Homo sapiens: one gene and its partners. The protein of the gene in region 2 interacts with the protein of the main gene of each other region in a biochemical or structural test. Each region holds a gene or a part of one and is shown on either strand. Other genes may lie near its edges. The genes, in order: RASSF6, RIMS2 and DGKK.

The links.
Region 1: the proteins of RIMS2 (region 2) and RASSF6 interact in a test that uses a peptide from one of them, tested with the Homo sapiens proteins (one large-scale study listed by IntAct).
Region 3: the proteins of RIMS2 (region 2) and DGKK interact in a test that uses a peptide from one of them, tested with the Homo sapiens proteins (one large-scale study listed by IntAct).

What each region holds. Positions count from the first base shown.
Region 1 is NC_000004.12:73,578,815-73,582,468, forward strand, and holds part of RASSF6 (ras association domain-containing protein 6), read right to left. Parts: intron 3,477-3,654; coding exon 3,375-3,476; intron 3,055-3,374; coding exon 3,003-3,054; intron 1-3,002.
Region 2 is NC_000008.11:103,499,020-103,502,773, reverse strand, and holds the start of RIMS2 (regulating synaptic membrane exocytosis protein 2), read right to left. Parts: upstream 2,165-3,754; 5' UTR 1,888-2,164; coding exon 1,712-1,887; intron 1,375-1,711; exon of another isoform or gene 1,086-1,374; intron 979-1,085; exon of another isoform or gene 864-978; intron 1-863. UniProt on the Homo sapiens protein: Rab effector involved in exocytosis. May act as scaffold protein. Plays a role in dendrite formation by melanocytes.
Region 3 is NC_000023.11:50,380,176-50,383,829, forward strand, and holds part of DGKK (diacylglycerol kinase kappa), read right to left. Parts: intron 2,429-3,654; coding exon 2,321-2,428; intron 1-2,320. UniProt on the Homo sapiens protein: Diacylglycerol kinase that converts diacylglycerol/DAG into phosphatidic acid/phosphatidate/PA and regulates the respective levels of these two bioactive lipids.

The DNA of each region.
Region 1 (3,654 bases), on a different chromosome or scaffold from region 2:
GTGGTCAGGCTGGTCTCAAACTCATGACCTCAAATGATCCGCCCACCTCGGCCTGCCAAAGTGCTGGGATTACAGGCATGAGCCACCGTGCCTGACACCCCCCTTCTCATCCTCTCATCTGCATTTCCCCAATCCCCCACCAGGTAATCTATCTCAATGGTTTTGTATTTATCACTCCATACCTTTCTCCCTAGTCATAAGACCATATATACCACATACTTAAATGGGAGCTTGTAACTGTTTAAAAAATGGGATCTTTTATATATACCTTTAGGCATCTTGCATTTCTCACTTAAAATATATTATGGAACTCCCTCCATTCTATTGGCATAAATCTACTCATTCCATTCAATGGCAGCCTAACAATCACTTATTTAATCATTTCCCTAGGATGAGTAACTTTGTCTTTAGCTTTTTGTCCTTATAAACAGTGTTACACATAAATCTGTAGGCACTAGTGCTTATATTTTTGTGGGATAGATTCTCACAAATGGAATGGTCAAGTTAAAGGACATATATACTGTAAATTTTAATAAATATTGCAAGAATAAATTCCAATAAGAAGAAAGTCATATTTTCACTAGTGTTGCATAAAAATATCTTTTTACCCTGATGCATGCCAGCCATGGGTAGAATCATTTTAAAGCATTTTGCCAATCTGAGAAGTGCAAGATAATATTACGGTGTGGCTTGAGCTTGCATTTCCTTAGCTACTTGCATTTCACTGAATTTAAGACTTTTCTAAAACTATTTAACTGGTTATTATGGTTTTTCCTTTCAATTGTATTTTCATGCTTTTTTCTATTTTTATCGGATTGTCTGTTGTTTTGTTACCATTTTGTAGGAAATTATTGGTATTATAGTTATTAATCTTTGGAGTACATTGACAATATTCTTTGTAATCTACTATTTGTATCTTTTAAATTGTTACACAGTCCAGTATTGCTACCATTTATTTTATATCTTTTGGTTTTCTTTCTTTCCTAAACAACTAGAATATGAATATATATGTGTCCTTAGAATTTTCCAAAAAATAGATCTTTATTTTATTTTATTTTATTTTTATTATTATTATACTTTAAGTTTTAGGGTACATGTGCACAATGTGCAGGTTAGTTACATATCTATACATGTGCCATGCTGGTGTGCTGCACCCACTAACTCGTCATCTAGCATTAGGTGTATCTCCTAATGCTATCCCTCCCCCCTCCCCCGACCCCACAACAGTCCCCAGAGTGTGATGTTCCCCTTCCTGTGTCCATGTGTTCTCATTGTTCAATTCCCACCTATGAGTGAGAATATGCGGTGTTTGGTTTTTTGTTCTTGCGATAGTTTACTAAGAATGATGATTTCCAATTTCATCCATGTCCCTACAAAGGACATGAACTCATCATTTTTTATGGATGCATAGTATTCCATGGTGTATATGTGCCACATTTTCTTAATCCAGTCTATCATTGTTGGACATTTGGGTTGCTTCCAAGTCTTTGCTATTGTGAATAATGCCGCAATAAACATACGTGTGCATGTGTCTTTATAGCAGCATGATTTATAGTCCTTTGGGTATATACCCAGTAATGGGATGGCTGGGTCAAATGGTATTTCTAGTTCTAGATCCCTGAGGAATCGCCACACTGACTTCCACAATGGTTGAACTAGTTTACAGTCCCACAAACAGTGTAAAAGTGTTCCTATTTCTCCACATCCTCTCCAGTACCTGTTGTTTCCTGACTTTTTAATGATTGCCATTCTAACTGGTGTGAGATGGTATCTCATTGTGGTTTTGATTTGCATTTCTCTGATGGCCAGTGATGGTGAGCATTTTTTCATGTGTTTTTTGGCTGCATAAATGTCTTCTTTTGAGAAGTGTCTATTCATGTCCTTTGCCCACTTTTTGATGGGGTTGTTTGTTTTTTTCTTGTAAATTTGTTTGAGTTCATTGTAGATTCTGGATATTAGCTCTTTGTCAGATGAGTAGGTTGCGAAAATTTCCTCCCATTTTGTAGGTTGCCTGTTCACTCTGATGGTAGTTTCTTTTGCTGTGCAGAAGCTCTTTAGTTTAATGAGATCCCATTTGTCAATTTTGGCTTTTGTTGCCATTGCTTTTGGTGTTTTAGACATGAAGTCCTTGCCCATGCCTATGTCCTGAATGGTAATGCCTAGGTTTTCTTCTAGGGTTTTTATGGTTTTAGGTCTAACGTTTAAGTCTTTAATTATAGATCTTTAAGCTTTCAATTATAAGAACTTTAATTTTATATATGTTTAGAGATACAGCTTTCATTTTCTTAAGGTGTTCTGGCATCAAAATGTATTATTTTATTCTAATAAATTTCTGGCTTGAACATTCTGACACTTAAATTATAGCATGAGTTTTTTCTACAAATTGATATATAAAATTTTTCATTTGTGAAGTTTTAAAAACTTTCATTTCAGTATCACTTTAAGTTTTCTCTATTCTCTCTATTATGCTCCTAGCATCCCACTTACAGCGCCTTCCCAATGTTCTGCTTCTAACCTTTCACCCCTCACCACGAAGTTCTGAATATGCATCTCTACTGAGGAAGAGATAGCACTCCCGCAATGTGTCAGACCCTGTGCTAAAAAAGAGGCAATATCAATGTCAGAGAGAACAGGTATGCAATCATGACTCCTCTAAGAGCAACACTCAGAAAGGAAAGCCAAAAAGAAAGTTACAGAGGTGAGCAAAGACAAAAGTGCCGAAACAGTTCCAGAGGGTTTTGATCTCCATTTAGATAATTTAATGTCTGGCCAACAAGCAAACTCTTTCATATAATCAACCCTTCAGGGATACCTTATTCTTAAGTTATCTTTCTTTAAAATTGTGGACTATAGATAATGTTCTAAAGACCACTCCTTCCTTTTCTCCTACCCATTCCTCCCCTTTCTCCACAGAATGAGGCAAACTGTTCTTCTGCCTTCCCCCTGGGCAGCAAACTGTAGCACTCTAGAGTCAGGTAAAAAGTGTGATCAAGCTTTCTTACCTCCTGTTGCAAAAATAATGTGAAGAGCAAAATCCTGGGGACTATTTTCAATCTGTCAAGGGAAAAAATGAACAAATATAAATTCTTTGTTGTTATATGATGTTTTCTAACCTGACCAGACCCAAATCATGTCTGTTTTCTCTCTTCCATTTTTCACTTTTAGACATAAAATCTTCTCTGCTCTTATGGGAATTATATAATTTTTCAAGGGATAGTTACTAAAAGGTGTTATACAAAGGAAAGAATCTTTCAGTGCTCAACATCCAATTTAGATTTACACCTTTATAGATCTGTTTCAGAAGAGTGGATTTGTGTGTTTATAGTTGAATTATATATAATATATTTATAGCTCAGTTAAGTGATAAAGGTTACCTTAAATTTTTGGAGAAGTTGCTTTATTACTTCTTCAGTTCTCATGTTACTGTTTACTCTGACCTTAGTTTCTGATTCAAAGGCTGGAATGAAAATTGATGTCTAGAAAAAGAATTGTCACATAAGTCTTTAAAATTATATTATATTAAGGGTATTCAATATCTTGAACATAATCTTCTTATAGGGCAAAAAAAATCCAAGGTCATTAATTTAAAAAATTTGTTTTGTTTTTGTTTGTTTTTCTTTGTTGTTTTTGAATATTATGTGTTCTTTTAAGCAG
Region 2 (3,754 bases):
AAAACTACATTTTACTGGAGCATCATTTTGGCCGCACTGATTTTTATCAATTATAGTAAAAGGCATTAAGTTCACATATTTAAATATCAAACTGCAAGTCATCAAAAGCTTGGCATTGTTAGTATACAAAAAAAAAGTTAAGCACAGTAAGAAGTATGCTCAAAAAGCTTCTAAAAATAATGCTTTATTCTTCTATTAGTTAGAGTAAACTGCTTAAGTCTCTTAATTTCTTCATATCTGAAGGCTGTTAATAAATAACATTCCCAAATAAGTATTCAACGCCAGAAATTAGCTTTCATGAAGACATTCTTAATTTCAGTTATTTCAGGAACATATTTGCTCTTTTAGCCACTCAATATTTTGTGAGAAATAGTATCTTTCTCTAAGATTTGTGAATATTTGATGTTTGCTACTATAAATTATTTAAAGTGGTATTTTTCATTAAAATATGAAAATATATACCTATTGACAATGAAACCTGTTTCTTTATTAGTACATGAAAGACTACTAAATTCAACAACCTGCTTTTAAAATGTACCTGAATAGAGGTGAGTGTATTAGTTCCTTCACAGAGGAACTCTACACTTTCAATTGTATATTTCTGTGGAGAATATGGGAAACGTATACTTGACAAAACGCAAAAGAATCATCTGAATAACTCATTTCAAGTAAAAAGAAAAAAGCCAAGCTGGAAAAACATAAAAAGGTTACACATCTTCTGAATAACCTCTTTCACAAAGTAACTGAGAAATCAAATAACCATAAAACATTCAAAAGCAAACCTTGTAGAAACAAATCTCTTTGCTACGCTAACCAGAAAAGTAGTCTCAGAGCTAAAGATAACCCTGTCTGGACAGTTCCCTGGTGCTGAAGTTCCAGAGCCGGTAAACGCATGCCTGGGTGCTGCTTTCACTCCTACCACCCTCAGAAAAACCCGGCCTGCCAAGACCGTGAGCAAGAATAGTAGAACTTCACAAGGTAGGGAGCATCCCAAACTGCAGTGATGGTAGGAACTGGAGTCTCTTCAGGATTAAACAGATTTACTAGTTGCAAACAGGAAGAGCAGCAGAGTGCAGGGTGTTAGCACTCGCCGAGGGGGAGGGGCTGGAAGATGGCGGCGGACGCACACCCACCCGACCGCGACAGAGCTTAGGCCCCTAGCCCGCGCCGCCGCCCGCTGCTCGCAGCCACTGTGGGCAGCCCTGCTCTGTCCCGCGTTGCTGGTAGAGCCGCCCCGCGGAGGCGTGGGACCAGGGTGGCGTCCGCATCCCCTGCCAGCGCGCCTTCGCCCGGGTCCGTCCAGGGAGCACCTGTGCACGGCCATATTGGATTCTGTGCCCCAGTCACTGCCTCAGCGCGGCGGGAAAGGAGAGGGTACGCACAGAGCCTGGGTTCAGCCCCAGTCCCGCTGGGGCCCCGGAGCCAAGATGACCAGCGAGGAAATCCGGAAAGGCGCCAAGGAAAATCACACCGCCTAAGGCTCGCCACCCTCACCTCAGCCGGCCTTGGCGCCCTCCCTCCCCGACACACACCCCTGCTCTCAGACACCCCTAAAACAGCCCGGGCGGCCGGCGCTGGCCGCAGCCCTCGTGGCCTGGGCGCCGCCAGCGGGAGGGAGGGCGGCGAACTGGGGCGCGCAGGCGGCCGCAGGGCAGTGGGCGAGGGGGCGGAGGGCAGGGAGAGAGGCGGGAATATGGAGCCAGGTCCTTACTTGAGCACGGACTGCTCCTTCTCCTCTTCTTTCTTCTGCCTATCCATGACGGCCAGGATGATTTTCCTCTCCTCCTCCGTGAGGTGGCTGAGGTCAGGCATCTCGGGCTGCAGAGGCGGCTGAGAGGCCGCCGGGATGGGAGCCAGGCGGCCCCGGGGCCCGACAGGAGCCGACATGTTTGGTGGAGCCGAACCACCCTAGGGAAGCGGGGAGGCAACTCCACTGGCAGCGGCGGCACCGGCGCGGCGGCTGGGGCAGCCTCCAGCGCTGGGACAAATACATACAAATCAATGGCCTTCAATCCAAGGCGACAGCCCCCCTCCCCCAAGAAAAGCAGGGGGAGGGGAGGGCGAGCGCGTGGGGAAGGAGGGCTGAGGAGTGCGCTTCGGGAAATGTTTCTTCTTCCCGGGGGCGAAGGGCTGTGAAGTGAGCGGTTCAAGGGAAAGGGGAACTGGAGGCCGGGACGCGGAGTGCGCGGAGAGGCGGGGGAGGGTGGTGGAGTAAGGTGGCGGGGACAGCTAAGGGTGGGGTGACTGGAGGGAGCAGGCGGGAGGGCGACAGGCGGACCGGGGCGCGAGTGTGTCCGGCCGCGGTCAGGGCCGGGAGCGCGCGCGCCGCCTCGGAGGGGAAGGGGTGCCTGCGAACAAGCCCCCGGGGAACTCGCTTCGAGCGCCCGGAGGCGGAGTACTGCCGGCCCGAGGGGCACCCAGGCGGGAGCCGAGAGGGTCGTGAGGAAGCGAGGACGGTTTCCCGGAGAAGCAACTCATCCGTCCCGCCGGCTGACGCATCACAGGGCTCCCGCGCGCCACAGAGGGAGAACTCCTCCAGGCACACCCGGGAGCGGGCCGCGGGGCCGGAAACCCCCGCGGAGACCCCAACCCCACCCACCCCACCCCCGGCTAGAGTGGAGAAGCGAAAGCGGAGAAGATATGACGGGGGCTAGCGGCGGAGAGTCCCGGGGCCAGGGCCCTTCGGCTGCCAACGCCCGGATCCAGGCGAGCTCCGACGTGCAGCGGGGTCTGGCGCCGGCCCCTCCTCATCACGCGCCCGGCCCAGGGTCGCTCAGCCGCCGCCACCGCCGCCGCCCCTTGGGTCGATGGAGTCGGCGCGGAAGGCCCGCGCGCCCTGCGCCGCCGCCGCTCAGTGCCGCCGCCAGCACCTCCTCCGCCCCTCCGCCTCCCGGGCTCATCCCGCGGGGGCGGCGTCACCTCCTCGCTGCCCAGGCCCGGGCACCGCGGGCGCCCCGCGGGCGGCAGCCGCCCCTCCCGAGCGCGATCTCCAGGCTGGGTCCGGGGCCGGGCGGGGAGGGAGGAGAGACTGAGCGTGAAGGGAGAGGGCGCCCGAGTTTTCGGGGACGGAAGTGTGGAGAATAGGAGCGTGTGAGGGGGCGCCCGAGGTGTCGGGGGCGGGGGAAGAGTATGAGCAGGGGTGGGGGCAGGGGTGCCAGGTGTAGCAGGTAGGGAGGTAGAGGCGGCGAGTGGGGGCGCCCGAGGGACCGGGGCGGGGCGGGGAGCGTAAGGGTGGCAAGGCGCCCGAGAGTCAGGGCTGGAGCTGAAGGTGGGTGACAGGGAGGGGGCGCCCAGGTGTCAGGACCTGAGGAGAAAGAGTGCGCGTAGCGGGAGGGCCCCGAAGTGTCGGGGCGGGATCCTGGAAGGAGGGAGAACGTGAGGAGGGAGGAAGGGTCCCTGGGGTGTCAGGGATGGGGGCCAGGAAAGGGGCAGAGAGCTGGAGGCCCACAAGTGGGGATAGCGGGGGAGGGAGGTTGGAGCGAGTGGGGAACGCAGGTGGTGTCGAGGGCGGGGACAGGGCGAGGGGAGCGGGGCGTGAGGAAGTTGTGGGAAACCGCGCTGGACGCTGAGAATGTGCGGAAGGATCCTGAGGGGAGGACGCGAGACAGCGCGAGGAGAGACGAGGAGAGTTAGGGTTGGCCGGGAGGGTGCGAAGATGAAGCGACCACTGGAGGCTGTGAGGGTGAAAGGAGCAAGAATCGTCTAGAGACGGGCTGGGCCGGTGCTGGGGCCAAAGGCTTCTGTCTGTCAGGCC
Region 3 (3,654 bases), on a different chromosome or scaffold from region 2:
TTCTTACAGAGAGGAGTCATGCTAAATGGCAACTGGACAGCGGTTAATGTAACTGATATCCAATGCAAACACTTGAAGAAATGGGTTCCTGGGCCCCTTTGAAGCCTCAGTATCCTATCAATAAATAAATTTTCCATTTCTGCTTGCTACCAATATTGGTCCAGACTTGGAAGAAACAGGCTATATTCAGACATCAATGCTCATAAAAAGCTATGAGCGTAGCTGGCTGGTACACACCAGCTACCCTAGTTGTGCTACTCCAGGAGATTTCAGCTGCTTGGAATCAATTTCATTTGAAACACGTGACTCTTAGAGTGCAATTTTTTTTGAAGCAGCAACTTTTCTGGCAAAGTGAAGTACTTTTCCAAACACCAGATCCATATACTAAATGCCTAATTCAATGCCATGGAACAGATCTAAGCTTGTAGGGAGATTTTAGAGGAGGAGCCAGTGGAGAAAAATAGGAGACAGGAAAGGATATCAGGTGACTTGAGGTGGAGGTGGGGAGGACAGCGTCTTGTTGACTGTGGAATCTCTGATAGAAATAGGTGGGGCACTTACGATCACTAGAAAGGCTGGATATAGTTTACTTGGAGCTTGTAAAGTAGAGCCACAGAAATGAGCCATCATCACATGGAATGAGTTTTGAAATGTCAGAAGGCTAGCACAAAATTATTGAGACACTGTTTAAACCATTCATTCTCTGGGCACTTTGGTGTTCTCATCTACAAAAATAGGAGTTTAGGTATATGAAAATGTACAATACCTAGAACAAACCAATTCTGAAAAAAAGAATCAAGTGGGGGACTTTCATCTCCCAATTTCAAAAACTACTGTAAAGCTATAGTTATCAAGATAGTGTGGTACTTGCATAGGATAGACACATAAATAAATAGAACAGAAGTGAGAGTCCAGAAATAAACCCTTGCATTTGTGGTCAATTGATTTTTGACAAAGGTGCCAACACGATTCACTGGGGAAAGGATAGCTGTTTTGAAAAATGGCTCTAGATCCGGGCGCGGTGGCTCATGCCTATAATCCTATCGCTTTGGGAAGCTGAGGCGGGCGGATTGCCTGACCTCAGGAATTCGAGACCAGCCTGGGCAAAATGGTGAAACTCCGTCTCTACTAAATTACAAAAAATTAGTCAAGCATGGTATCATGCACCAGTAGTCCCAGCTACTTGGGAGGCTGAGGCAGGAGAATTACTTGAACCCAGGAGGCAGAGGTTGCAGTGAGCCGAGATCATGCCACTGCACTCCAGCCTAGGCGACAGAACAAGACTCCGTCTCCAAGAAAATAAAAAAAATAAACAAATAAATAAATTAAAATGGTGGTGAGATAATTAGATATCCACAGGCAAAAAGATAAACTTAGACTCTTACCTTAGACCCTCACACTATACGTAAAAATTAACTCAAAGTAGATCATACACTTAAATGTATTAATAAGAGCTAAAACAATACAAACTTTAGAAGAAAACTTAGGAGCAAATTTTTAAGATCTCAGATTAGGCAAAGATTTCTTACAGATGGCACCAAAAGCATGGTCCATAAAGAAAAAAACTGATCAATTGGACCGCCTTAGAATTCAATACTTTTGTATTTCAAAGATACCACTAAGAAAATGAAAAGACCAGCAAGAGACTGGGAGAAAATATTTGCAAATCACATATCTGACAAAGTTCCTGTTTCTCAGCCCAGGCCTGCTTTGAGAAAGAGGTTCTAGTGGTGGTGGCAAGGGTGGGGTGTTGTGGGGTGGGGTGTCACACTTTTTACTTATAGCTTCAATGTACCACAAGAACTCTGAGACTGACTTAGGCCTTGTCTGAAGTATGAAAGTGCGAGAAGGTGCCATGCAGGCCAACACTGGATAGGGTAAAATTAACGGGTTCAGGGGAACCAGGTTAGGAACACCAAAAACAAATAGAGGGATGTTTGATACTTTGCAACTTTGTCAAGTGAAAACAGATCTGAAGCCACTACTGAAACCTGGTTAAACTTTCACAGACAGAACAAAGGTGGGCGATTTGCTAAATTGAGTCAACATAATCTGTTGTCAGTAACAGTAACACAGGTAGCTGTGTTTACACAGAAATCCACAGGTCTGGATTTGAAGGCAGCTCAAGTTTAGGATGCCAGTGCAGTCATCCAAAATTTGGCACACACTGTCCCGCTAGACTAGTCTTGGGGCCAATGCATTTTACTTCCAGTGGGTCCCTTTCTTTCTGTTGCTTGTCTGAGAGGTAGAGAATGTAGGAATACGTATGTGTATTGTGATAGTGTGTTTGCATGTAGGGAAGGGAGTTTCTTTTCCTTACTTGTATTGCCCTGGGTGTTCATCTCTTCTGGTGTTGAAGTCCAGAGAAATTTTAGCATCCAGTCCAATTCCGAAGTAGTTGTTCATGACACATTTTTCTTTGAAGCGTCTGAAATTATTCAAAGAAGAGGACAGACATTGGTGCAGGAAAGAAGTGCCGCTATCAATTGGGCATGAAGATGAATCTGCATGATGGAAAACCAGTGAGGGAAGGCCCCCTCCACACTGGGCACTAACTATAACATTTTTGAGAGGCACATGTAGATATCCTTTTGTGTGAACAACTAGCTTATTAGCTGTAAGAGGGAGTGCCTCGCCAGTTGGGAAGCTTCAGTGGGATTGGAACTCATAATAAAGAAGCAACATTGATGATTTTAGTCATCTTTGGAGGCCTTATGTATGAGTGGCCCATATTTTCTTCATATGTAGTATTAAGGGAAATACTGTTTACTCCTATAAAGAACTTTTGAATATCCTAGACACAAACGTGCCATGACAGTTAAGTCTGCACAACTGCTCTCAGTGATGTCCGACATCAAAGGGGAAAATGACCACACATTTGGAAGGAAAGACTGATAAAAGAGGGTAGATATGTACATAACAAAAAAGCCAAATTATTTGTCAAGTCTCCTGTGTCCATCTAGGGTGTCAGCATCAAAACCAGTGGTGTGCCATAGCCAGTTGGCACCAGCTCATGTAAACTGATTATGCATATCTCTTTCCAACTCCAGATTCAATGGCATTATATCACTAACTTAAATAGGCCATGGTGGAAGGGTTTACACCATAAATGAATCAGGGCTTTCTCCCCCAAGAGAGGAGGTTGTTAAACACTTTGCCAGTGCACTATTGATCAAAATTCATTAGGTAGATCCATGAGAGCTCAGACATAAATTTGAGCCAATGGTGAAGTGTGGGGGCAAGAATGCGGGTTGGAGACAGGAATAAAAATTGTTTTCTTAAATAAATTATTTAAGAAAACATAAATAATTTCTAGCTGTGTCCTTTTGAGAAATTAAATGGATACAGTTTAGCTGTTTAATCTTAGATTACTTTTTTATTCATTACCATACTGACCTTACATCTCTCACATGAGATTTGCCTCCCTCAACCACAGTCCAGAGATTGGAGTTTCTCTAACTAATGTCCAAACTGATCTTCTTAATGGAACTCAGAATGAGTGAGTGTGGCAGAACTTGGCTGCTGCCGATATTCTAAAGAGGGAGAACTGGTGAGACAGATGTCCTTAGATTTGCTGCCTAGTCCCCTAGTGACCATTTTAGTTTTTAGTATCTTCAACCATTTACTGTTAAGGGCAACAGTGAAAAAAAGCAA